Homo sapiens: one gene and its partners. The protein of the gene in region 4 binds, or shares a complex with, the protein of the main gene of each other region. Each region holds a gene or a part of one and is shown on either strand. Other genes may lie near its edges. The genes, in order: ARPC3, ARPC5, ARPC2 and ARPC1B.

Region 1 (7,027 bases), on a different chromosome or scaffold from region 4:
CATAGTTTTTGAAGAAGACATTGGCCTTGAAGTAATAGATGGCTTCATCCACAATATCTGTATCTTTTGCTAAGCAGGACACAAGGGAAGGAGCACAGAGAACATTAGCCAAATACAAAACATAACAACTATCAAAGCCATAAAGGGAAAACACATACAACTGTCAACAGTTGTGGAGTTGAATAAAATAAAATGATCCTATTGAAATACAAAGTTTTTAGAAAATATTTATTTGTTTTTTTTTTGAGACAGAGTCTCGCTCTGTCACCCAGGCTGGAGTGCAGTGGCGTGATCTTGGCTCACTGCAAGCTCTGCCTCCCGGGTTCACGCCATTCTCCTGCCTCAGCCTCCTGAGTAGCTGGGGCTACAGGCACCTGCCACCACACCCCGCTAATTTTTTGTATTTTTAGTAGAGATGGGGTTTCACCATGTTAGCCAGGATGGTCTTGATCTCCTGACCGCGTGATCCGCCCATCTCGGCCTCCCAAAGTGCTGGGATTACAGGCATGAGCCACCGTGCCCAGCCTTTGTTTTTTTTTTTGAGACAGAGTTTCACTCTGTCGCCCAGGCTGGAGTGCAGTGGCGCGATCTTGGCTCACTGCAAGCTCCGCCTCCCGGGTTCACGGCATTCTCCTGCCTCAGCCTCCCAAGTAGCTGGGGCTATAGGCACCTGCCACCATGCTCAGCTATATTTTTTGTATTTTTAGTAAAGACGGGGTTTCACCGTGTTAGCCAGGATGGTCTTGATCTCCTGACCTCGTGATCCGCCCATCTCGGCCTCCCAACGTGCTGGGATCACAGGCATAAGCCACCGTGCCCGGCCAAATTTTTTTTTTTTGAGACGGAGTCTTGCTCCGTCGCCCAGACTGGAGTGAAATGGCATGATCTCGGCTCACTCTGCCTCCCGGGTTCAAGCGATTCTCCTGCCTCAGCCTCCCAAGTAGCTGGGATTATACGCATGTACCACCAGGCCTGGCTAATTTTTGTATTTTTAGTAGAAATGGGGTTTCACCTTGTTGGTCAGGCTGGTCTCGAACTCCTGACCTCGTGATCTGCCTGCCTCAGCCTCCCAAAGTGCTGGGATTACAGGAGTGAGCCACCACCCCCGGATTTTCAGAAAATATTTATAGAAAAGTAGTACATGGTTTATTTTTACAGCTTTATTGTTTTCGTAAAACTTATACATGCTCATTAGAAAATGAAATTCAATCAAAACAGTTTTATTTTTTAGAGAGAGGTCTTGCTCTGTTACCCGGGCTGGAGTGCAGTGGTACAATTATAACTCACCACAGACTTGAATTCCTGAGCGCAAGTGATCCTCCTGCTTCAGCTTCCCAGGTAGCCGGGACTACAGGCATGCACCATGAGGCCTGGCTAATTTTTTTCTTTAAAAATTAAATAAAATTTTTAAAGAAAAGTTTTTAAAGATGGCTGGGCACAGTGACTCACGCCTGTAATCCCAACACTTTGGGAGGCCGAGACGGGTGGATCACCTGAGGTCAGGAGTTTGAGAGCAGCCTGGCCAACATGGTGAAACTGCGCCTCTACTAAAAATACAAAAAATTAGCCAAGCATGGTGGCAGGCACCTGTAATCCCAGCTATTCGGGAGGCTAAGGCAGGAGAATCGCTTGAACTCGCGGGTGGAGGATGCAGTGAGCCAAGATTGCACCATTGCACTCCAGCCTGGGCAACGAGATCAAAACTCTGTCTCCAAAAAAAAAAAAAAAGTTTTTTTTAGAGATGCAGTCTCACTATGTTGCCTAGGCTGGTCTCAAACTCCTGGCCTCAAGTGATCCTCCTGCCTCCTGAGTAGCTAGGATTACAGGCATAAGCCACAGCACCAGGCAAAAAAAAAATTTTTAATTGTCACCTTAATTCCCATTTCCCCAAAAATAACTACCATTAGCATTTGGTGAACATTATTCAAGACGTCTCTCAATGCATTTATAAAAAAACACTGAGACATAGACTAACTTTAACTGCTTCCTAAAAATAAAAAGTATTCAGTCGGGCGCAGTGGCTCACGCCTGTAGTCCCAGCACTTTGGGAGGCTGAGGCGGATGGATTGCCTGAGGTCAGGAGTTCGAGACCAGCCTGGCCAACATGGAGAAACCCTGTCTCTACTAAAAATACAAAAACTAGCCGGGCATGGTGGTACGTGCCTGTAATCCCAGCTACTCAGGGGGCTGAGGCAGGAGAATTGCTTGAACCCAGGAGGCAGAGGTTGCAGTGAGCTGAGATCATTCCACCAAACTCAAGCCTGGGTGACAGAGCGAGACTCCATCTCAAAAAAGTAATAATAAAAAATATATATAATTAAATAAAATAAAAAGTATTCAATATAATTTTATTTGAATTTACATATTATAGTTTCAGAAAAAAACTCAATTATTTAGAACATGTTGAGGTTCAGATACACATCTTTCTTTTTATGAAAACTATGACTTAAAATATACTTGTACAAGCTGTTGTAGGTAGCTCTAGACGGACAAAAGCCAGAAATACTGTCTTGACAAAGACAGATCTCATGACACAATTTGTTTGGCAATTTTTTGTTTTTCTTCTTCTTATTTTAAAAAGGTCAAAATCCCAGGGTCTTGATATCTGGCAGTTGGTTTCAGCAGTGCTGAGACAGTTACTTATACTTCTTGTCTATGACTGTTAACGTTCTCGCACAGCAGAAATGCAAAGTAATCTTGAAGCTTTCATACTCTGCAATTCAGTTGTCTTCATCCCAGCTCATTGCCCTGTGGAAGAATTTCAACAGAACTCTAACTCTAGACTTGTGTTCCTTGCAATTTACTTTTTTTTTTTTTGAGATGGAGTCTCGCTCTGTTGCCCAGGCTGGAGTGCAGTGGTGCAATCTTGGCTCACTGCAAGCTCTGCCTCCTGGGTTCACGCCATTCTCCTGCCTCAGCCTCCCGAGTACCTGGGACTACAGGAGCCCGCCACCACGCTTGGCTAATTTTTTGTATTTTTAGTAGAGATGGGGTTTCACCGTGTTAGCCAGGATGGTCTCGATCTCCTGACCTCGTGATCCACCCGTCTTGGCCTCCCAAAGTGCTAAAGTACTGGGATTACAGGCGTGAGCCACCGCGCCACGCCCTATTTTTTATTTATTTATTTTTTCGAGATCAAGTCTCACTTTGTCGCCCAGGCTGGAGTGCCATGGCACAATCTAGGCCCAGTGCAACCTCCGCCTCCTGAGTTCAAGTGATTCTCCTGTCTCAGCCTCCCATGTAGCTGGGACTACAGGTGCCTGCCACCACAGCTAGCTAATTTTGGTATTTTTGGTAGAGACAGAGTTTCACCATGTTGGCCAGGCTGGTCTCAAACTCCTGACCTGAGGCAATCTGCCCGCCTCAGCCTCCCAAAGTGCTGGGATTACAGGCGTGAGCCACTATGCCTGGCTGCAATCTGTTTTCTTATCTGTGAAAGAAAACTGTCTTGGAGGACTCAATATTGTTTCCAAAAACCAGCTAGTTCTTCTAAATGCAATGACAGGAGGGGGCAAAGGCCAAAGGATTCTGAAATTAGAAGAATACTTGGCACATAAAAGGCATTCTACAGATATTTGTTGAATATAAATGAATTAGTGTGATTAATGCTGTTATTTAGCTCACAGCACAGGCCTCCATTCCAATTCAGGTTTTTTTTTTTTTTCTTTTGAAACAGAGTTTTGCTCGTTGCCTAGGCTGGAGTGCAATGACATGATCTCGGCACACTGCAACCTCCACCTCCCAGGTTCAAGCAATTCTCCTGCCTCAGTCTCCCAAGTAGTTGGGATTACAGGCATGCGCCACCATGCCCGGCTGATTGTTTGTATTTTTAGTTGAGATGGGGTTTCTCCATGTTGGTTACGCTGGTCTTGAACTCCTGAACTCAGGTGATCCACCCACCTCGACCTCTCAAAGTGCTGGGATTATAGGTGTGAGCCATCACGCCTGGCCTTTGCAGTGAAAAAAAATTTTTTTTTTTTTTTGAGATGAAGTCTCACTCTGTCACCCAGGCTGGAGTGCAGTGGTGCAATCTTGGCTCACTGCAACCTCCACCCTCTGTGTTCAAGCGATTCTCCTGTCTCAGCCTCCTGAGTAGCTGGGATCACAGGTGCCCACCACCATGCCTAGCTAATTTTTGTATTTTTAGTAGAGTTGGGGTTTCGCCATGTTTGCCAGGCTGGTCTCGAACTCCTGACCTTAAGTGATCCACTTGCCTTGGCCTTCCAAAGTGCTGGGATTACAAGTGTGAGCCACCGCACCCAGCCTTGTGATTTTCTTTTATGTTATTTTTCTTCTTTCCCAGGCTGTCTTCTTCCTTGTTCCTTTTCCTCAGAATCAAGTAGAGACTGTGGTGACTCACCATATGCATTAAGTTTACTGAGCTTTCAAATGGTGTTGAAAACAAAATTAAGTTTAAAAAAGGTCAAGTCAAACAGTCTGGCAGAGAAATGGGGACTGGATAAGTACCAAATTGGTAATTATAATAATGGTCTTGGAAACCATGAATGGAATTCAGTTCAGACCCTTGCAGGGTACAGGGAAACCATGTCTAACATAATACAAATTATACTGTTGGGAGAACATCTCAGAAAGCATCAGAAGAGTCTCAGACAGTGTCTGAAAAATATTGCGGCTTTCTGAAATAAAATTCAGAAAAGCGGGAATAGACGTAAGTAATGTTACATAGTACACTTCAGATTTAAGATTGAGGTATTGCTAAAAATGAAGATCTTGAAGAATGAATAAAGGAAGTAGATTTAGACGAGGAAGAGGTTAAAATATTTGTTGTTGTTCTTTTCCAGGTTGATGACAGAAAGGATGGGCATGTGGCATTCTAGACGTAACAGCATTAGATTTGTTTGAAAGAACTGATAAACAGTGTCCAGAATTAAGCACATTTCCTCCATTTTCTCAAAAGAGTTTCCTGGAGAAGTCAGAAGAAATAATACAATTTCCTATTAAATGCAACATATAACCACTATCTTGAAAGGTCTAGACCACAGTATCTACCAAGCAAAGTACAAGGGCAATTTGAGAGAGAAGACTGAGCTAAGAATTTTTCTGATTTGATCATTTCAGAAGATTGTTAGGCATTTCGTACCAAAATTTGAAAATAATGGGTTTAGACTTACTCTCTCTGGGGGCAGGTCCTTTGAATTGACTTCTGATAGGCAACAGTGCCATGTTTCCGATGAGTTTGGTATCAGGATCCATGAGAGAAGAGTGGTAAGCCTGTAATGGCAAGCCCAGGAAGAACACAGAAGCAGAAAAAGAGCAAATGTCACTGTGGCAAACAACCTTCCCTTAAAGGAAAAAAAGAGTAAACCACCCAAGATTAATTAGGGGAGGGAGAAGGGATAGCAGCATTGAGGTGCGAGGGCTGGTTCTTTCTGGCTCAAGAAAACCAATTGTTAAATTTTGAGGCATTTTTCAAGCTGGTTGTTAAACACAGCTCTTCTCAAAAATCAAATTATATAAACTTACAATTAAGTAAATGATGTTGGCTGGACGTGGTGGCTCATGCCTGTAATCCCAGCACTTTGGGAGGCTGAGGCAGGCAGATTGCCTGAGCTCAGGAGTTTGCAACCAGCCTGGGCAACACAGTGAAACCCCATCTCTACTAAAATATAAAAAATTAGCCAGGCGTGGCGGCGTGCGCCTGTAGTCCCAGCCATGTGGGAGGCTAAGCTGGAGAATCACTTGAACCCAGGAGGCGAAGGCTGCAGTGAGCCGAGATCGTGCCACTGCACTCCAGCCTGGGCAACAGAGCAAGACTGTCTCAAAAAAAAAAAAAAAGTAAATAATGTTAAAAACAATGATGCTTAAGTATTCATCACTTCTTTTTTTTTTTTTGAGAAGGAGTCTCACCATGTTGCCTAAGATGATCTCAAACTCCTAAGCTCAAGTGTTCCTCCTGCCTCAGCCTCCCAAAGGGCTGGGACTACAGGTGTGAGCCACCACACCTGGCTACTTCCTAATTTTTTTTTTTTTTTTTGAGACAGAGTTTGGCTCTTGTTGCCCAGGCTGGAGTGCAATGACATGACCTTGGCCCACTGCAACCTCCGCCTCCCGGGTTCAAGTGATTCTCCTGCCTCAGCCTCCTGAGTAGCTGGGATTATAGGGATAAGCCACCACGCCCAGCTAATTTTGTATTTTTGGTAGAGACGATGTTTCTCCATTTTCGCCAGGCTGGTCTCGAACTCCCGACCTCAGGTGATCTGCCCGCCTTGCCCTCCCAAAGTGCTGGGATTACAGATGTGAGCCACTGCACTGCACTTGGCCTACTTCCTAATTTTTTTTTTTTTTTGAGACGGAGTCTTGCCCTGTCGCCCAGGATGGAGTGCGGTGGCGCGATCTCTGCTCACTGCAACCTCCGCCTCCTGGGTTCAAGCGATTCTCCTGCCCCAGCCTCCCAAGTAGCTGGGATTACAGGTGCGTGCCACCACGCCCAGCTAATTTTTGTATTTTTAGTAGAGACAGGGTTTCACCATGTTGGTCAGGCTGGTCTCGAACTCCTGACCCCATGATCCACCCGCCCCGGCCTCCCAAAGTGCTGGGATTACAGGCGTGAGCCACTGCACCCGGCAATAACCTAATTTTTAAAAATTACATTTTACTATTGTCTATGTTCTTAAGGTTATTATTACGAAATACTAAATAATGGGGTGCTGCTGTGCATCTCTTCCAATTCTATGTTCGGTGACATCACATTGGTATCTGGCCAAAGTATTTCCACTACAGAAAGACAAACATCATATAAATCAGGGTACCCAGCCCCCAGCTAAACCAAGACCCAAGCACTATCTTTTCAGCTCTGCCACTTCATGGCGTTATGCTTTTGACCAAGACATCATTCTTCTTCTCTTAGCTTGTTTCCAAATTTGTAAAATGAGAAGATATATATTCCCTTCAGTGGGTAGGTGTGTGTTAAAGGAAGGGATAAAAAAAATCACATTTATGAGAGCATTTTGTATGCTGATTCTTAGTTCTGCTTTTTACAAGATGTCTGGCTTTTTATAAGTCAACA
Region 2 (7,027 bases), on a different chromosome or scaffold from region 4:
TAAACCTTTACAAAAATAAACAGATTGTAATTGCTTTTTAAAGATTTTTTAAAACCATACAAATACTAAATACTTATTATAGAAAGCTCAGACATATGAGAAGGTTAAAAAGATAGTGGTTTGTGGTCCCAGCACCCAGAGATAACAGTTACTACTTTGGGGCCTTGCTGTATTGTTACAGAGTTCCCTTTTGTTTTTTTAAGAATGAAATTTTATAACGTGCTTTTTCAGCTATATGCAATGTACATGAGCTTTCCTTCGCAATAAGTTTATAGCATTTTTAACACTTGTATATGGATAAGCTGCAGTGTATACATAACTAATCTTTTGTTATATATTTAGACTGACTTTTTTTTTCCTATTGTAAACCACTGAAATCAATATTTTTTGGTAAATTTTTAATTGTTCTCTTTGAGTAAATTGCTAGCAGTGAATTACTGGATCAAAGAATGCACTTTTTTTTAAGGCTTTTGGTATGCAGTATTGCCAAATTGCCCTTCAGAACAGTTGTGCAACTTACATTCTCTGCAGTCTTTTACTAATTCTTAACCTATTTACGTATTTATTTAAAATGATGCCCATAGCATCAACCCCGTTGTCCATAGCTATTCATACATCCTAGGAGCTTCAAGAATCTCAATTGAATAGTAGTAAGTAATAACTTAGGTAAATGCATAATAATTATCTAGGTAACATAATTTTTTATTGGGGAAAATTTCTTTGGTTTTTACAAGTTGTAAAGATTGTCGTTGAAATTTCATTTTTACCGTGGATGCAAAGATATTTTTCTAAATCTGGTAATTGCAGTCTTTAAACCAAAGATAACAGTAGGTGGTAGAAACATTCTGTGAAATCCTGACCAGTAGGAATGCTGGAGGTATCACTTTGTGTTGAATGGAAGGAGAAACGAATTGTTGAAAAGGTCAGTTAAGTGTTTCCTTTGCTTGGCCGGATGGGTAAGAAAATAACTGCTTTTGAAGCAGGCTTTTGCCAAAGAAAAAAGATCATTATTAATGAACATCACTATATTTCATATCTACAGTCAATTCATATAAATTACAGTCAATTTTCTTTTAAGACAGCTTGGTTTATTAAAATTTTTAAATAAAAAAGTTTTTAAGAAAAAATTACTTCTGAAGGATAATTCAAGGTGAAACTGCAAATCTGCCTCCTTGTTTTGTTGGGAATTTTTTTTTTTTTTTTTTTTTTTTGAGACGGAGTCTCACTCTATCACCCAGGTTGGAGTGCAGTGGTGCAATCTCAACTCACTGCACCCTCCGCCTCCCGGGTTTAAGCAATCCTCCTGCTTCAGCCTCCCGAGTAGCTGGGATCACAGGCACACACCACCATGCCTGGATAATTTCTGTATTTTTAGTAGAGACAGGGTTTTACCATTTTGGCCAGGCTGGTCTCGAACTCCTGACCTCAGGTGATCTGCCCATCTCGGCCTCCCAAAGTGCTGGGATTACAGCTGTGGGCCACCACACCCGGCCGTTTTGTTGGGATTTTTTTTTTTTAAGATCAAGACATAAATTTAAATGTTGTTTTAATAAATTGTTAAATTATCACATTGATCTGTTAGCAAATCCTCTCAGCTCTGCCTTCAATTATGTTAATAGTCTGTCTAGTTTCTTACCACCTCCACTGCTACTATGCTTACCACATCCAGCCTGTATTATTGCAATTGCCTCCTAATTGCTCTCCCTGCTTCTACCTTATCCCCTACTCCCACAGCTTATTTTCTGTAACATAGATGCCAAAGCAATCCTGTTAAAATGTGAGTCAGATTATGGCACTGCTCTTAAAACCTTCCAATGTCTTCTCATTTCTCTCAGTAAAAGCCAAACTCCTTACAATGCCTGTAGGCCTTACACGATCTGTCCTCCCATAACCTCTGACTTACTCACGTGCTTTTCTCCCACCAATCCACTCCAACCACATTGGGTTTTTTTCTGTTCCTGGAACACACTGAACACACACTAATAGCACTGTTCTTTCCTCTGTCTGAAACACTTTCCTCAGTTATCCCAAGCCTTCTTTCACGTCCTTCAGGTCCTTACTCAAATGTCACATTCATAGTGTAGACTTTCTGAAATTCTAAACCCTCCTCATACAGATATGTCTAAATGTTCTGTTATTTATTGACCCACCAGGACCGGGCAGGCAGCATTGTCTTGAAGGTGCTCATCTCTTTTAAAGCTAATGATATAGAAAAGGCAGTTCAATCTCTGGACAAGAATGGTGTGGATCTCCTAATGAAGTATATTTATAAAGGATTTGAGAGCCCGTCTGACAATAGCAGTGCTATGTTACTGCAATGGCATGAAAAGGTAAGTTATGAATTATAAATCTATATGACTGGTTCTTTTACAATAGGGAATGACAATGACAACCTCTCTCACCTAAATAACCATTTTGATTTGTTGTACATTTTTGTTATTACAAATAAAATGCATGAAAAGGATAGTTCATATTTATGTTTACTAGCCTTGGTCTTAAGAGATTCTGATTCCAACACTTGTGTTTATTCAACAATGATTATTAGTAATTAAACATAATCTTGAACTCTGAATTAAATCAAAACTTTGTAAAAGAAAATAAGCAATACAAATCAAGAATTCTTTCACAGTGACCAAAAGGTGAAAACAACACAAGGATCATAACAGATGAACAGCTAAATTGTGGTACATACATACAATGGAATATGATTCAACCATTAAAAGGAATGACATTCTGACACATGCTATAACATTAATAAACCTTGAAAACATACCAAGTGAAATGAGCCAAACACAAAAGAACTAATATTTTATAATTTTACTTATATGAAATAATCTAGGATAGGCAAACACAAAGGGACAGAAAGTCCTTAGAGGTTACTAGGAAGTAGGGAAAGCAAGGAATAGGGAGTTAGTGCTTAATAGGTACAGAGTTCCTCCTTGGAGTGGTAAAAAAGTTTTGGAAACAGATAGTGGTGATGGCTACAGTACATTGTGAATATAATTAATGCCAATGGATTTTACACTTAAAGATGGTTAAAATGGCAAATTTTGTGTTAGATATTTTACAACTTTTTTAAAGAATTAGGAGTTTGGAGGATCAAGAATTCTTAAATCATGTTTTTCTATTTTCATGTGTATATTTTGCAATGTAAGTAGATGCTGGTACATCATCTGTCAAAAGAGTATAAGTGATTTTGAGCTTTGGGTAAAAAACTGGATAACATGTAAATAGAACCAGTCATAAAAATATTGAGTGTTTGAAGTGTATCTGAGTGAAAACACAAACATAAGAAAAAAGCACATAGTAAAACAATAGTTCCCCCTTTTACTCTAAAATGCACCAATTTGGGTAGTAATTTATATGGCACCCTATTCATGGAACACTTTCTGTTGCCAGGTACCATACTATTAATGTTTTATTTAACCTTTACAACAACCCTGTGAAGTATATAAATATCTTTATCATCCTCAATTTACAGATGAAAAGCTAGCTTTAAAACCCAAGCAGCGTAGTTCTAGCATAGCCTCAAGATTGCAGTGAACATTGATTACTTATTATATTCCACATATTCTTCAAAGGACTTTATAAATATTAACTCATTTAATCCTCATAAAAATGGAGGGAAATGCTTGCTATTATTCCTCTTTTGTCACTGAGGAAACTGAGGCATGTGTGAAGTCTTCATTTCTTCCAAATGTCAGTCACCAGTTTTTACCAATCTTCGAAGTATTTCTGAAATCTATCTGTTCAAGCGTATCTAATGCAGCTGTTCACAGCATCTCTCCCAGTCTGTTGCCATAGCTTCCTGACTGGTTTCCCAGTTAACAGTTTTGCCTCCTTCAAATCTGTTCTCCACCCAGCCATCAAAATGATATCTTTAAAATCAAAATTGCCCTTGTCAGTCACCTGCAGGATAAAGTCAAAGTTCCCAAGTCTAGCTTCATCTTCCATGTCATTCTTCCCCTCAGGCTATAGCAATGCCAGCCTTTTTCCTGAATGCACCATATTGTTTCACACCTCCATACATTTGCTCATGATTTTCTGGTGTTAGCCTGTCACCTACTCATTCTTTTAATGTGTCATTTCCTCCATGAAGCCTTAGCTGAAACATTCCTCTATACTGTTAATCTGGGTATAAGCCTCTCCCTGGTGCTTTAATAGCACCTGCAGCACAACTCTCATTTCATACATTAGATTAAAATTACCTGTTTATATGTCTGTCTCCTCATGCTAGACCAGAAAATGCTGTATTTGTTCACTTTTGTATCCCCAGCATCTAGCACAGTACTCAGTATACAAAGGTATTCCATAAATATTTTTTGAACAGAAAGAAACCAGAGCTCAGATTCCTAATACTTGATCATTACTCTCTATTTTTCAAATTAGAGTCAGAGTTAAAGTTTCTAAGTTCTTAGCTATTAAACAATACCTTCTTTCTTTGGGAGAAAAAAAATCTGACAAAGGCTGACTAATCGAAGTGGAAGTTGGGATGGTTGATCCCAGTTTGAATTTTCTTCTGACTATGTGGTGAGAATGAGAAATGCAGAATGTCCACCTGTTTTGAGCAGGAACACTATGCTGCAGATTTTTTTTTTTTTTTTTTTTTTTTTTTTTTGAGACGGAGTCTTGCTCTGTCGCCCAGGCTGGAGTGCAGTGGCGCAATCTCGGCTCACTGCAAGCTCCGCCTCCTGGGTTCACACCATTGTCCTGCCTCAGCCTCCCGAGTAGCTGGGACTACAGGCACCCGCCACCACGCCCGGCTAATTTTTTGTATTTTTAGTAGAGACGGGGTTTCACCATGTTAGCCAGGATGGTCTTGATCTCCTGACCTCGTGATCCGCCGGCCTCGGCCTCCCAAAGTGCTGGGATTACAGGCGTGAGCCACCGCGCCCGGCCTATGCTGCAGATTTTTTAAAACATTATTTAGAATTAATGTACTAAAATGTAAACTAGTATCTCACTAGAATGTAACTTCATGAGGGCAGGGACTTTCAAGGTTTTGTTTATTACTGTAACCTCAGTGCCAAGAACAGTACCTGGTGCATAATTGGTGCTCAAGAATTTATTATTTGTTAACTAATAAATTCAGGGTCTATAGCAGTGCCCATTCCTTCTTTAAGAAAAATGTTTTACCAAATATGAGAATTGACCTTTTATTATTCTGTCAACATTTACATCTTGGTTTGTTTTTAGGCACTTGCTGCTGGAGGAGTAGGGTCCATTGTTCGTGTCTTGACTGCAAGAAAAACTGTGTAGTCTGGCAGGAAGTGGATTATCTGCCTCGGGAGTGGGAATTGCTGGTACAAAGACCAAAACAACCAAATGCCACCGCTGCCCTGTGGGTAGCATCTGTTTCTCTCAGCTTTGCCTTCTTGCTTTTTCATATCTGTAAAGAAAAAAATTACATATCAGTTGTCCTTTAATGAAAATTGGGATAATATAGAAGAAATTGTGTTAAAATAGAAGTGTTTCATCCTTTCAAAACCATTTCAGTGATGTTTATACCAATCTGTATATAGTATAATTTACATTCAAGTTTAATTGTGCAACTTTTAACCCCTGTTGGCTGGTTTTTTGTTCTGTTTTGTTTTGTATTATTTTTAACTAATACTGAGAGATTTGGTCAGAATTTGAGGCCAGTTTCCTAGCTCATTGCTAGTCAGGAAATGATATTTATAAAAAATATGAGAGACTGGCAGCTATTAACATTGCAAAACTGGACCATATTTCCCTTATTTAATAAGCAAAATATGTTTTTGGAATAAGTGGTGGGTGAATACCACTGCTAAGTTATAGCTTTGTTTTTGCTTGCCTCCTGATTATCTGTACTGTGGGTTTAAGTATGCTACTTTCTCTCAGCATCCAATAATCATGGCCCCTCAATTTATTTGTGGTCACCCAGGGTTCAGAGCAAGAAGTCTTGCTTTATACAAATGTATCCATAAAATATCAGAGCTTGTTGGGCATGAACATCAAACTTTTGTTCCACTAATATGGCTCTGTTTGGAAAAAACTGCAAATCAGAAAGAATGATTTGCAGAAAGAAAGAAAAACTATGGTGTAATTTAAACTCTGGGCAGCCTCTGAATGAAATGCTACTTTCTTTAGAAATATAATAGCTGCCTTAGACATTATGAGGTATACAACTAGTATTTAAGATACCATTTAATATGCCCCGTAAATGTCTTCAGTGTTCTTCAGGGTAGTTGGGATCTCAAAAGATTTGGTTCAGATCCAAACAAATACACATTCTGTGTTTTAGCTCAGTGTTTTCTAAAAAAAGAAACTGCCACACAGCAAAAAATTGTTTACTTTGTTGGACAAACCAAATCAGTTCTCAAAAAATGACCGGTGCTTATAAAAAGTTATAAATATCGAGTAGCTCTAAAACAAACCACCTGACCAAGAGGGAAGTGAGCTTGTGCTTAGTATTTACATTGGATGCCAGTTTTGTAATCACTGACTTATGTGCAAACTGGTGCAGAAATTCTATAAACTCTTTGCTGTTTTTGATACCTGCTTTTTGTTTCATTTTGTTTTGTTTTGTAAAAATGATAAAACTTCAGAAAATAAAATGTCAGTGTTGAATAATTTATTTTTCTCTGACTTTAACAATTATGAATGTATGGTTAATTAAGAGGAAAGGTTTTCTGCTTCTACCACCAAGTACTGTACTCTTAACAAGAACAGTTTGGTAGGGTTTTTATAAGACTATATAGATATAAGATGATAGAGAAGAGAGTCATGAATGATGTCAGAGCACTACTGAAGCCTTTGGAGTGATTCCATAGCCTTCTGGATGGCAGCTGAATACCTATATGTAGTATCACTGCCCAAAGACCTAGACTAGAAAGTGCAAAGTAGCTTAGCAGCTGCAGTCATTCACTCCCAGCCTCCAAAATTCTCTTTCTTTCACCTCAAATCTATTTCTTGTACTTACCTACTCACAGCGACTTCTGTTTGCTTTCGATCTTCACCTGACTAGATTCCCACTTTAAAACACTTCCAGGCAATTCAGGGTCCT
Region 3 (7,027 bases), on a different chromosome or scaffold from region 4:
AGTAGTTTGGAGGAGAAACCCTGGAGATTTGAAAGGCTTTGCTGGTGTGGGAACCTGCTAGGAGAGGTCAGCTCCACCCTACTTTTTGCACTTCTCAGAATAAACCGATGGGGGAAATTACAGTTCGGAGCAGCCTTTTCCAGAGTGCATCTTCCATCTCTGTGATGTCCAATAAGATAGCCATACAAAGTGGCTGGCTAAATTTAAGTAAAAATTAAGTTGAAATAAAATTGAGTTCCTCGGTCACACTAGCCACATTTCTGGTGCTCATTTGCCACATGTGGCTGGTAGCTGTTGTATTTAGCACAGACATGGAACATTTCCATTATTGCAAAGTTCTATTAGCACTGTTCCAGCTTCTGAAAATGAAAGCATGAGATGGTCTTAAAAATAGTTCTGTGGCATATACTTCAGAATATAGTTGCATTAATTTTCCATTTGAAGTTGATTTTTTTTTTTTTTAATGATTCCTCTCAGATCATCCTGCTGGATCTTCTCACCAGTGGCCTCCTACTAAAAGTATCAGCTTTCTTTTGGGTAAAGCAGTGTTGTCATCTAAACTGTTTAAGAATACATTTGATCATAACCTTTTAATTTGGAGGCAGTTTGACAAAGCCTAAGGTTCATTCCAAACAGATTGCTTTTTAATTTTTTCCTACACACTTCTGGGAAGTGGCTTATTGAAACAACTCATAGATTGTCACAAAATAATAATTATTGGTAAATTGTCTTCCCAGCAGCCCACAAACTAAGAGAATGTGACTGACTTAAAAGCTATGCCCAACACTGCAAATAACCTCATGCACAGGTCTGATCAACAGCATTGCCTTTTCATTTGGAAATTCTTACCCAGACCCTCAAAGCAAAAGTAATCAGACAAATTAATTTAATTCTTTCGTTAGTGTACACACCAAGAACCGTTTCATAACTGAGAAGCTAGGCCTGTCAACTTAGCTGGAGTCTGGAGTCCAAAATTGAGGAAATTCTGTCAGATGCAAATTGCTGTTGGATTTAAGTGTGTGCTGGCTCCGTGCCACAGCCAGTGTATATTGCGGGGAGCTGTGGTTCCATGGGGGGGAGTGAAACTCAGTAAGCAAGCAGTGCCAGTTGGGGTGGGCGAGGATGATGGGAAGAGAAATTTGAAAAAGGAATAAATTAAATCTTGCTGATACTCTGTTCTCATTCCCAAATATATTGCATATGTCCTCAGAGAGACAGGCTGTTTGGAGTGATTTGGAATTAGGACATTGTTTAAGCATTTAGAAGAAATGGAATGTTGTGTCCAACTCAGTAAGAAGACCTGGTTGGTCTTTTTACAGGTCACTGTAGTTAATTACACACTGCCACCTGTCCTGTGGCCTACTTGGGACCACTTTGGTCCTGAAGCCCCAGAGCTGTGCTGGACCAAACTGATAACTCCTTAAGAGCTGGGTCTATCACTTTAATCATCTTTGTTTCCCCAGCATCCTCATTGTGTATATAGTCAACTCAGTAAATTGGTTTATTGAAGAAATTAATGAAGCCAGATAGAATGATTCCTTGTTTCTTTAGGAGCTGACATTTTTGTGACATTGAGTAAATCAGCTTTTAGGTCTCTGTTCTCCATATTTTGATATATGGCTTAGTGGAGAATAGGACCACCTCTTACCTAATATGATCTATTTTTTTAGGCTTTGCTCAAAAAGAATGATGGGAGCTTTATAGAAGATTTAAAGGAGAATGCTCAGAAACCTTTATAGTGAGCAGAATTCAGTAATTCCTCTAATTCAGGACATAAGAAGGGATAAGTAGGAGAGAGACATAAATGCCCAAATGGGGAATTGGGGCCAGGCACCCTGGCTCACGCCTGTAATCCCAGCACTTTGGGAGGCCAAGGAGGGCGGATCACTTGAGGTCAGGAGTTTGAGACCAGCCTGGCCAACATGACAAAACATATGTCTACTAAAAATACAAAAATTAGCCAGGTGTGGTGGCGCACACCTGTAATCCCAGCTACTCAGGAAGCTGAGGCTGGAGAATCACTTGAACCCAGGAGGCGGAGGTTGCAGTGAGCAGAGGTGGCACCACTGCACTCCAGCCTGGGTGACAGAGCGAGACCCCATCTCAAGAAAAAAGAAAAAAATGGGGAATTGGATCCTAGGGTGCATTCAGGAGTAAAAACCCCAAAGTTGTTAATGAGAAAAGAAGATGAGATAATACAGTTGCCAGAAGCCCTTTCTGGATTGATTATTGACATTCTAGAAGCTTCCTTAGAGAAAAGATAGAAGAAAATTTTTTCTAAAGGGTTTTAAGAATAGCTCTTAAAACCTGTCTGAATGAATTGATTATGTTTTAGTGTCTTGGGTTGTCCAGGCAGTAACTCTGAGGACTTACCCAGCCGGCTTGTTCTAGGATTCCAGACATTACAGCAGTCTGACACTTATAGGAGTTCTGTTTTTCCTTGTACTGCTAACCAATTCCTGATTCAGGGAATTACCGCAATCCTAAAACCTCTCCCAACCACAGCTTCAGAGTCCGATCTCTGACTCCACCTAGGAGAAGAACTAATTTATTGATTACCTTCTATGAGCTAGGCACTGTGCTATATGCCTTAACATGGTTTCATTTCATTTCTGTGACAGATAGTGGATCTCATTTACAACTGAGAAAACCAGGGCTCTTGAGGATTGGGGGTGGGGGTAGATATTGAATAAGTAACTACTACATATTAAGTAAGCACCGTGCAGGCATCCTTCACTGTGATTCTTGACCTTGTTTATCGTATGGCACACAGAACATGATTGTATTTGTATGGCACATTTGGGTAAATGGTCTAGCCTCTCAGAGATCCTGCCACCTGCTGCCTGCCCTAAGGGATATGGGGATCATTACCTCAGCATATCTATAACTTAAAAGACACCGTTTGAGAAACTTTGCTGTACAGTAGTCCCCCCTTATCTGTGGTTTTGCTTTCTGCAGTTTCAGTTACCTGCAGTGAGCAGTGAACCATGGTCTGAAAATATTAAATGGAAAATCCCAGAAATAAACAATCCATTAATTTTAAATTGTGCACCATTCTGAGTAGCATAATGAAATCTTGCGCTGTCCCGCCCAGGACATGAATCATCTTTTTGTCTAGCATATCTACAGTGTGTACGCTACCCTCTGTTAGTCGCTTAATAGCTGTCTAGGTTATCAGATTGACTGTCACAGCATTGTAGTGCTTGTGTTCAAGTTACCCTTATTTTACTTAATAATGGCTCCAAAGTACAGGAGTAATGATGCTGGCAATTTGGATATGCCAAAGAGAACCCATGAAGTGATTCCTTTAAGTAAAAAAAGTGACCTTGGTGTTTCTTTGCTACAGTTCAGTGCTATCCACACTTTTATTTATCCACTGGGTGTCTTGGAACATATCCCCCACAGATAAGGGGAGACTGCTGTACTGCTGGACATATATCATCTCAGTCTTCACACCAACCTGGGAGGTAGATGTTTTGTCCCCATTTTGTAGAAGAGGAACCTGAGGCCCGGTGACATTTGAGGAGCATTGCCTGTGGTCACATAGCCAATAAATTCTGAATTCTAAATAACTTGCTTTTTCTCACCCCCAGCATCTGAAATTTTAGCAGCTGGTAGAACAGTAAATAATGTAACTATTAATTCTGGGGGCCTATTTAGTGGAACACTTTTCCTGGGCCAGTCTTCCTCCCGCTCCTTTGTAATTTTAAACCACAGAAGTAAAATAACAAACGCCAGGTCTTGGAATTGAGAAGCAATCTTGTGATGGTATACTTCACGCTCAGCAAACTCATCGTTAAGGCACTGAGTTCTCGGACCTCTAACTCCCAGAAGACTTCCCATGAAGTCTCCTTTGGCCTAATACTCTCCTCAGCAGCCATTCTCTCTCTTCTAGCCATAAATAGTAAACTAAAATATTAATGAATGTGATTTGACAAATATTGCTAAGTCAGACAGCAGACCACTTAAGATCGATCGTAGCAACTTTTCCCACAAGGATCTGTGCTCAGGATACTTTATGCCTAGAGAAATTTGAAATTAGAGACTCAAAGTGTGTATGACTTGGAGCCCAAAGGTTATTTATTTATAGTTGGTTTTTCTCAGGTCTTTTGACAAAGTAGGAGAGTGAGGAACTCAGCCCTTCTTTGGCTGAATTAAAACCTAAAGGTTAAAAAAAAACTTACTAAGTGATGTAATAATGGGCTTTTATAAACTCCCTGACTCTTCAGCACAGTCAGCCTTCCCCAGGAAAGTATGCTTCCATGCTTCCTCCCATTGGTCATCCTCTTAATATTTCATTCAGTTGGTCCATGATTAACATTTCCATATTTTTGTTCTTTGCTCTTGTTTTCTAGAGGTGAGGAATGGTATTGGACTCGTTGCCTTTGTTTCCTGGCTACAGTTTCAAAATGAAGGCTCAGAAGCAATTTAAATTTTCATCTAGTTTTTTCCTTCTATTCTGAACTCTCTGCTTCTCCGTAAACCCACTTGATACTTCAATTCGTAGAGATACCCAGTGCGCTTTTCCTAAGTCACATATAGGGCTTTGAAGAAGCAAGGTGAAGCTTTGTATGATTCGTATAGGTTGATTTTTCAGCAGGGCTAGCATGCTTCATAGAAGCCAGTTTTTTTGAAAGGTATTGTCTGGCTTCTATATCAGCTTTTTAACACTCATAAACCATGTTATATATTCCATTATTTCCCAGCATCCCTGGAGAGCAACTTAGTCTTCGTTTCTTTCGCAGGTAATGGAGCAGAGATCGTGGAAAGATACGTACTTGATTAAGAGGTCTTGAGCAAGTTAGACAAAAATAAATGTGAAAACATGCGCATCTTGTTTGCTAGCCCCTAAAACAAAGTGGAATCATTGAGTTTACAGGTAGCTAGCTGGTAAGGCAATAGTCTTCATTTGCTTCCTACTTTGGACTTCAGGTCTGTTCTTGTGTTATATGTAGTAGTTCCATGAGGTAAATAGGTTCATTTTTATTCCCCCATTTTATTGATGATAGGGGAGAATGCAAAGGTGTAAGGGTATTTGTCCCAAAACATGAGCGTGATGAGAAAGCTAAAGTTGTAAAGCAGATGTCCTGACTATTCTTAGTGATTTCATAGTGTTATTTTGTGTTACACTGTCTATTTTAAGTTCCGAGCTGGAATTTACAAAGCAAGACAAAACTAGGGTAGAACTAAAGAGGGTTTCTTGAAGGTGAGTGGTAAGTACTTTGGTGATGTAAAGGAAGAAAGAAAGATGAGTAGGAAGGCTTACAGACGGGTTTTGAAGTGGAATAGAACTTGCCGTTTTGTTTATGGCCCGAAATCATCCTTTCTCTTTAAGCATATTAAAACCATTCTACATTATACTTAGCCATTTTCCTGCTGAACGTTTTACTCCTAATACCACTGTCCTGTGGGGAAGGCATTGACCAAAAGATGGCATTTTGTGGTATATAGCATGTTGTTAGGAAATTCAGAATTGAAAGTGAGCACCAACCAAAGCAGTAGATTCAACAGCAGGTGAAAAACAAAAGCTATAGCTGGCCTTCCTTTTTTATCTGACCTTCCTTTTTTATCCTCTACTTAAAGCAAGTCCAAAGGTTCAGGTCCATGAGAAAATGAATTGTGTACTCTGATTGGCAGTAACCTAAAATTTATACAGAATGGTCTGATCTTAAGTGAAGCTCAGGTGCCTTTCCAGTTCCCTTTGAAGGTAAGCAGCAATACAGTCATCTTAACTGAGGACCTTTTTTGTTGTTTACAGAAACAAACCGGAAGCAGTAGAAGTAACATTTGCAGGTAAGCATCTTTATCTCAGCCCTCTGAAGAGAAGGTACAATATGAAAAATAGGAAATAGGCTGGGTGCAGTGGCACATGCCTGTAATCCCAGCACTTTGGGAGTCCGAGGCAGGTGGATCACCTGATGTCAAGAGTTAAAGAACAGCCTGGCAAACATGGTGAAACCCCCTCTACTAAAAATACAAAAATTAGCCGGGCATGGTGGTGGGCACCTGTAATCCCAGCTACTCGGAAGGCTGAGGCAGGAGAATCACTTGAACTGGGAGGCAGGAGTTGCTGTGAGCTGAGATCACACCACTGCACTCCAGCCTGGGCGATACAGTGAGACTGTCTCAAAAAAAAAAAGAGAGAGACAAGAAAAGAAAATTGTACCTAAAATAAGCTTTGACATGGATTGGGTGCGGTAGCTCATGCATGTAATCCCAGCACTTTGGGAGGCCACGGCAGGCGGATCACGACGTCAGGAGATCGAGACTATCCTGGCTAACATGATGAAACCCTGTCTGTACTAAAAATACAAAAAATTAGCTGGGCATGGTGGCGGGCACCTGTAGTCCCAGCTACTCCGGAGGCCGAGGCAGGAGAATGGCATGAACCCAGGAGGCGGAGCTTGCAGTGAGCAGACATCGCGCCACTGCACTCCAGCCTGGGCGACAGTGAGACTCCATCTCAAAAAAAAAAAAAAAAAAAAAAAGCTTTGACATTTTGGATACTGTCCCTCATCAGGTCTTTTTGAGCTCTTTATAATAGATGACCATTTCATGTATTTAATCCACTGATGACTGACAATATAAAGTTACCTGCTGATAAATTAGAAGTTTGGATTTAATTTTGTGGTAAAACTGAGGTTTTTTTGTTGTGTTTTTTTTTTAATTTGGAAATATTACATTATCTTCAAGTAGCTGTCAGTCTTAGTTTGCCTAGCACTAGAGTAGTAGGGAAACATGAACAGCTAGAGATGTGTTCATCAAGTCAGAGAGAGATGTTGCTGCTTTCTGTTCCCTATAAAGAATTAGGTGTTGGTACTATTTACTTGTTAGGTGAATGAACTCAGAGGAATACAACCACCCTTTCTACAACAAGAGTCCTCGACAAGATGATCTTGGAAGACTTTTGCAGCTCTGAAGTGCTGTTACCTGGAGGCCAGGCACCATCCCTTTACCCTCCTACTAACTGGCATTGCCAGATATCCCTTCGTGATTCCCATGACAGCTCCATAAAGTGATGGCACTC
Region 4 (7,027 bases):
CAGGGGCTCATGGCTGAGGCAAAGGCAGATATTTAACAGATACATCCCATTCTCCATCCAGACATCCACTGGCTGCACCCAGGGCTGGGAGGAGGCACAGGGCTAGGCGAGGCCTGGGTGATGGCTCTTGGGGAGGCCCCAGGGTGACCCAGCCTTGGGGAACTGAAGGAGGGAGATTTTTGTTTCTTGAGACAGGGTCTCTCTCTGTGGCCCAGGATGGAGTGCAGTGGTGTGATCATGGCTCACTGCAGCCATGAACTCCTGGGATTACAAGCATGTGCCACTGTGCCCAACTAATTTTTGATTTGTTTGTAGAGAGGGGGGTCTCACAATGCTGTCCAGGCTGGTCTCAAGCTCCTAGGCTCAAGAGATCTTCCCTCCTCACCTGCCAAGTATTTGGGATTACAGGTGTGAGCCACTACACTCGGCCAGAACGAGGGAGATGTTTGACTGCAGCCCTCTAGACTAGCCCCAGCACTGAAGGGGAACCCTGGCAGAGGGCAGCGACTCATCCTCCCGTCAGCCCAGCTCAGCCCCTGCCAGCCTGTCCCTAGCCTCCTCCACCTGCCGCTGAGTGTCAAAGGAGCCCACCAGGCCTGACGGGGGTGAGATCACGGTCTCAGCCCAATTCCTCAAACACATCTCTCCCCGCCTCCGTGACTCAGTTTCCCAGCATCACAGGGACCTGGAAGTGGAGGAGCCCAGTGGCACTGCTTGCCCAGCCACATGCCCCGGGACACATCACCTGCCTTCTTTTAACCTCAGTTTTCTCATCTGTAAAATGGGAACAGGAATCCTGCCTCCCAGCAGAGATGCTGAGAGCTGGAAGCAGATGACACACCGCACCTGGCCTCTATGAGGAGGAACCACGAGGCGGTTACTCTTAGCCTGTGATGGATGTGATATACCAGCCCTTTGAGGAGCAGGCCTCCCCAGCCAACCAGAGGCCAATCCTGGGGCACACAGGCATGCACCTGCCTCGGGCTTCCGTGCTGGCTGTTCCCTAGGCCTGTGACACTCTTCCCCCAGATACCGGCACACACGGCTCTCGCTCTGGTGCTGCCACTCAAGTCTGTACTCAAATGTCAACTTTTGGGGAGGCCTTCCCTGGAAACTGCAGCACCTTCCACGGTCCGGCACTTCGTAATTCCCTATTTCCGATTAAATTTTCTCAGCAGTCACCATCAGACATGCACTCACTGATCTGGCCCGCTGCCTTCCTCCCCTGCTGGAATAGAACCAGCTTGGCAGAGACACATTTTTGTTCTATCTTGTTCTCGTTTCTATTTCCACTGCTTAAATGCTTAGCACATAGTAGGTGCTCAAGAAATATCCGCTGAACAAATTTTTCATTGCCATTAGTGACCAACAGAGTACGTTCTCAGAAACGTGTGTGTGTGTGTATATTTGAGAAAGGGTCTCGCTCTGTTGCCCAGGCTGGAGTGCAGTGGTGTGATCACAGCTCACTGCAGCCTCGACTTCCCAGGCTCAAGTGATCCTCCTGCCTCTGCTTCCCAAGTAGCTGGGACTACAGGCTCACGCCACCCTACCCAGCCCTCAAAAATATTATCATTACATAGGTTAGGAATGAGGCCAGGCACGGTGGCTCATGCCTGTAATCCCAGCACTTTGGGAGGCCGAGGCGGGCGGATCACCTGAGGTCAGGAGTTCAAGACCAGCCTGGCCAACATGGTGAAAGACTGTCTCTACTAAAAATACAAAAATTAGCTGGGCGTGGTGGCGCACACCTGTAGTCCCAGCTACTTGGGAGGCTGAAGCAGGAGAATCTGTTGAACCTGAGAGGCAGAGGTCGCAGTGAGCCAAAATCACACCACTGCACTCCAGCCTGGGCAACAGAGCAAGACTCTGTCTCAAAAAAAAAAAAAAAAAAAAGGTTAGGAATGAATGTGTGTGAAAAAATAACTTAAAAATAATAAATAAATAAATAATTTTATTAAATAGGGCCAGGCGCAGTGGCTCATGCCTGTAACCCCAGTACTTTGGGAGGCCTAGGCAGGAGGATTGCTTCAGGCCAGAAGTTCAAGACAAGCATGGGCGATACAGTGAGACCCTATCTCTACAAAAAATTTAAATAAAAAAATTTGCAGGTGTGGTGGTGCACATCTGTATTCTTAGGTATTCAGGAAGCTGAGGCAGGAGGATTGCTTAGCCTAGGAGTTTGAGGCTGCAGTGAGCTATGATTGTACCACTGTGTGACAGAGCCAGACCCTGTCTCTAAAATAAAATGTATTAACTAGTACCATCCAGCACTTTCTGGATACTCCCTCCTTGCCAGCTCTAGAAAAAAAAGTATCCTTTTTTTTTTTTTTTTTCGAGATGAAGTCTCACTCTGTTGCCCAGCCTGGAGTGCAATGTCGCAGTCTTGGCTCACTCCAACCTCCGCCTCCTGAGTAGCTGGGATTACAGGTGCGCACCACCATGCCTAATTTTTATATTTTTAGTAGAGACAGGGTTTCACCATGTTGGCCAGGCTGGTCTTGAACTCCTGACCTCAAGTGATCCGCCCGCCTCGGCCTCCTAAAGTGCTGGAATTACAGGCATGAGCCACCGCGCCTGGCCAGGTGCTCTGTATACATTCTTGACTTCAACACTCCCACCAGCCCTGGACTTTCAGGGAGGCCTGGCTGCACTTGGGGAGGGATGCCAGGCTCCAGGTCAGCTCCAGATGACAGATGTGGGGGCTGAGGCCACCTGCCCAGAGTCACCAGTGACAGCCATTAGATAATGTGGCTGCCTCCCTCACCAGACTGGCAGTTTTGTGTTGGGTCTCAGGGCCTGGGCTGGGAGCCAACCAGGACTGGGAACCCTGAATGCCCCAGGAGGCCGGTGGCTGCCCCGTCACTGCCCTGCCCAGGGGCCGGCCCATCCTGCACTGCATCTGGGCCCAGGCACAAGGGAAAGGCAGAACGACCTTTGCCTGGGGCTGCAGTTTGGCCCCACAGGGCTCAGTGACCAGCCTGCCCGAGGTCACAACACAAAGCCCCCTGCGCTCACTGCCTGGAAGGCCCTGTCCACCTCCTGCTCACTCCAGATCCAAACCGCTTGCTTTCACTTGTATCAGGATGTCCTGGAAGATTCCTGGAGCAGCACAGGACACACACACATGCACATGTGTACATGCACGGGGCAGGGACCTCATGTTTCCTCCATGCTTAGAACAGGACCCCGGTGGGTCCCCAGTCAGCATTTGCTGAGCAAGTAGACACACGCAGCGCAGGGTCAGGCCACGCACACAAACACATGCGTGTTCAGCCTCACACACACAAGCACACTTTGCATGTTAAGCCTTGCACACACACATGCACACTGCACCTCCCCACACTTTAAGCACATGTTTAGCCTTGCACACATGACCATACTCCCCACATGCACGTGTTGAGCCTCACACACAGGCACACTGCAGGCCTGCACACATGTATGTTCAGCCTTGCACACACGCAAGCGCACTGTGTCCACAAGCACACTTTGCACGTGTGGGCAGCCTTACCCAGAACAAGCACCCGGCACCCACTGGGGCTGCCTCTGCAGCCTCTCTCTCCTTATAAGGCCTCTTTGTGTAAGGTGAGGGCCCCGGAAGCACCATCTCAGCGCCCTCAGCCATGTCAGCAGGTCTGATGGGGGTTTCCCTGAGCGTTTCCTGTGTTCCCAGGCTGGGACATCACCACCCACATCTGATGCCAGCACTGTGCAGAGAGAAGCTCAAGGCCTGTGACTGATTCACGGTGCTCATCTACACCCCGACAACCCCCATGGTCCAAGGTCACCAGCAGGGCAGGGGCAGGGTGAAGGCCAGAAGCCCACTTTCACACTCCACCCAGGCTCTGGTTGGCCCCAGGACTCCAGCTGAGGCCAATTTTTCCCTCCCTTTCAGCCCCAGGAGGCCCAGACTGAAGGAACCTCCGGGGATGAGGGTGGGAGAGCCCAGACTCAGAACCCTGGGTTGATGCACAGACTCTGACATCCCAGCATCAGTGGTCACATTCTTGCTGTGTGCCCAGCCACATCTCTGCCCTGGCTGTCAAGACGGAGTGGCTGGCTCTGCTGAAGACAGCAACCCCCACGTGTGCCAGTGGGCAAGGGCAACCGAGAGGACTTGAAGAGCCCTGACCACTGTTTCTAGGACCTAGACATACTCAAGGGGCAGAGGAGGGGCTGGAAAAGATGGCCACAGTGGTACACTAGTGACTGGCAGAGGAGGGAGGTTGAGACCACACCTATCAGCCAATCACACTTCAGCATGAATTAGCAGAAATACTTCCTAGTCTGTTGAACAAACCCCTTAAATGGGGCAAAGAAGTGTTAAGGGGGCGAGAGACAGGAAGACTCATTTCCCTTTTTCCATAACTTCTGCAAAGCAGCTGAAACCCAAAGCGCCTCTGCGATAACTCCCCAACCCCCACATCTTACCAGTGAGGAAGTGGGAGAGCAAAAAGGGAGTGGCTTCTCTCAGCCAATGCTGCCACAGGGCTCCAGTCTCCTGCCTCAGGGATTCTAGCCGGGGACACTCCAACTTCATCATCCTCAGGAAAACCTCTCACCTACCAAGCCTGCGTGAGCCAGCGTGTGCTCACCCCCGCCTGCCAATTACCCTGCTCTGGATGTCTCAGGAGAAAAATACGAGGGCTGCTTCACCCACCAGTGTTGACAGCATAAGGTCTCAGTGATGGCTCCTGGGGGAGGGATCCAGGACACCAACCCACTATCACTGTGGCCCTGTGAGCCAGCACTGTGGGCCTGTTTGATGTTAAGAAACCAGAGAGAGGAGGGGATAGCCGGGCACAGTGGCTCACGCCTGTAATCCCAGCACTTTCGGAGGCCGAGGTGGGTGGATCACTTGAGGTCAGGAGTTTGAGACCATCCTGGCCAACATGGCAAAACCCCGTCTCCACTTGGAAAAAAAAAAAAAAAATTAGCCAGGCATGGTGGTGCCAGGCAAAGAAAGCCTCAGGCTGCCCAGCGGCGGGGTGGTGGTGGTGAGGCACTCTAAAGTCCTGGGCCTTGATACTCTCTCCCTTACTGTGCTGGGTTTACATTCTAGCTGTCTTCATACTGGCTGGGTGCCCTCAGCCAATATTTCCCTCCCATCTTAATCCAGATGAGGCTGGGGCTAGACTAGGCACAGGCTGCGGGACCCTTCTTGCCTGGCTTCCTTAGGTTTCCCTGAATCCAGAGGTTTGGCTGTATCAGAGGCTAAACCAAGGAGGAGTTGCCTGGAGGAAAGATCTCAGCATTACAGGCGCTCTGGGAAGTCCCCACCCAGCTCAGGCAGTTCTTGGATAGAGCAGCCAGCAGGCTAATTTGCACCGTGCTAAGCGGTTACTCAACTTCCTATGCTGGGTCAGAGCCCTTCCTACCCCTATCCTTCCCTCTCCAGCTCTGCTCTTGAAGTCTTACCAACCACGCAGAGTGAAGTCAAGAAACACACATGAAAACAATCGTAAGGTACCATTAAAGCACCGGTTAGTCATCCAAACAAAACAAAAACACACAAAATTCAATGCTAGCAGAGCTGTGGAGAAATTGTCATTTGTTGCTAATTGGTTTAATTCTTCTGAAGGGCACTCAATTCAACAAGTGGGTGGGACCAAATATTAATAGAACAGAATAACACTAACAGGAACTTGAAAATTAGCATTCTGGCCAGGTGTGGTGGCTCACGCCTATACTCCCAGCACTTTGGGAGGCCGAGGTGGGTGGATCACGAGGTCAGGAGATCGAGACCATCCTGGCTAAAACGGTGAAACCCCGTCTCTACTAAAAATACAAAAAATTAAGCCGGGCGTGGTGGCGGGCGCCTGTAGTCCCAGCTACTCGGGAGGCTGAGGCAAGAGAATGGCGTGAACCCGGAAGGCGGAGCTTGCAGTGAGCCGAGATTGCGCCACTGCACTCCAGCCTGGAGGACAGAGCAAGACTCCATCTCAAAAAAAAAAAAAAAAAAAAGAAAAAGAAAATTAACATTCTTTGGTCACATACACCCATTTGGTCCTAAGAAAACAGCAACACATTTTTCTTTCTTTTTCTTTTTTATTTTTGAGATGTAGTCTCATTCTGTCGCCCAGGCTGGAGTGTAGTGGTGCATTCTCGGCTCACTGCAACCTCCGCCTCCCAGGTTCAAGCAATTCTCCTGTCTCAGCCTCCCCAGTAGGTGGAACTACAGGTGCCCACCACCACGCCCAGCTAATTTTTGTTTTTGTTTTTAGTAGAGATGGGGTTTCACCATGTTGGACAGGCTGGTCTCGAACTCCTGACCTTGTGATCCACCCGCCTCGGCCTCCCAAAGTGCTGGGATTACAGGTGTGAGCCACCACGCCTGGCCCCATTTTTCTTTTTTAAAAGCAAACAGGTGGGGTGCCATGGCTCACGCCTGTAATCCCACCATTTTGGGAGGCCAAGCCAGGTGGATCACTTGAGTCCAGGAGTTCGGAGACCAGCCTGGGCAACATGGCAAAACCCTGTGTCTATAAAAACTACCAAAAAAAAAAAAAAAATTAGCGGGATGTGATGCTGTACGCCTGTAGTCCTGGCTATCTGAGGGGCTGAGGCTGGAGGATTCCTTGAGCTGGGAAGGTGGAGGTTGCAGTGAGCCGAGATCTCGTCACTGTACTCCAGCCTGGGTGACAGAGTGAAACCTCATCTAAAAAATAAAGCAAACATGTTTATAATAGCTGTCTTTATAATGGTGACAGTGTGGAAAAACCCAGGTGACAATATGGAAAGAGTAAATTATGACATTAACATGTTGAGATGCTACGTAATTATTAATATTAGAAAAGACCTATCAACCGACGGGTGCGGTGGCTCACACCTGTAATCCCAGACTTTGGGAGGCGGAGGCAGGTGGATCACCTGAGGTCAGGAGTTTGAGACCAGCCTGCCCAACATGGTAAAACCCTCTCTACTAAAAATACAAAATTTATCTGGGCTTGGTGGTGGGCACTTGTAATCCCAGCTGCTCGGGGGGTCGAGGCAAGAGAATCACTTGAACTCGAGAGGAAGAGGTTGCAGT

Evidence for each region.
Region 1: ARPC1B (region 4) and ARPC3 share a complex: the UniProt entries of both Homo sapiens proteins name them as parts of the arp2/3 complex.
Region 2: ARPC1B (region 4) and ARPC5 share a complex: the UniProt entries of both Homo sapiens proteins name them as parts of the arp2/3 complex.
Region 3: ARPC1B (region 4) and ARPC2 share a complex: the UniProt entries of both Homo sapiens proteins name them as parts of the arp2/3 complex.

What each region holds. Positions count from the first base shown.
Region 1 is NC_000012.12:110,440,320-110,447,346, forward strand, and holds part of ARPC3 (actin-related protein 2/3 complex subunit 3), read right to left. Parts: intron 5,233-7,027; coding exon 5,133-5,232; intron 70-5,132; coding exon 1-69. UniProt on the Homo sapiens protein: Component of the Arp2/3 complex, a multiprotein complex that mediates actin polymerization upon stimulation by nucleation-promoting factor (NPF).
Region 2 is NC_000001.11:183,625,764-183,632,790, reverse strand, and holds part of ARPC5 (actin-related protein 2/3 complex subunit 5), read left to right. Parts: intron 1-2,153; coding exon 2,154-2,330; intron 2,331-5,196; coding exon 5,197-5,259; 3' UTR 5,260-7,027. UniProt on the Homo sapiens protein: Component of the Arp2/3 complex, a multiprotein complex that mediates actin polymerization upon stimulation by nucleation-promoting factor (NPF).
Region 3 is NC_000002.12:218,220,162-218,227,188, forward strand, and holds part of ARPC2 (actin-related protein 2/3 complex subunit 2), read left to right. Parts: intron 1-5,758; coding exon 5,759-5,793; intron 5,794-7,027. UniProt on the Homo sapiens protein: Actin-binding component of the Arp2/3 complex, a multiprotein complex that mediates actin polymerization upon stimulation by nucleation-promoting factor (NPF).
Region 4 is NC_000007.14:99,377,709-99,384,735, reverse strand, and holds part of ARPC1B (actin-related protein 2/3 complex subunit 1B), read right to left. Parts: intron 1-7,027. UniProt on the Homo sapiens protein: Component of the Arp2/3 complex, a multiprotein complex that mediates actin polymerization upon stimulation by nucleation-promoting factor (NPF).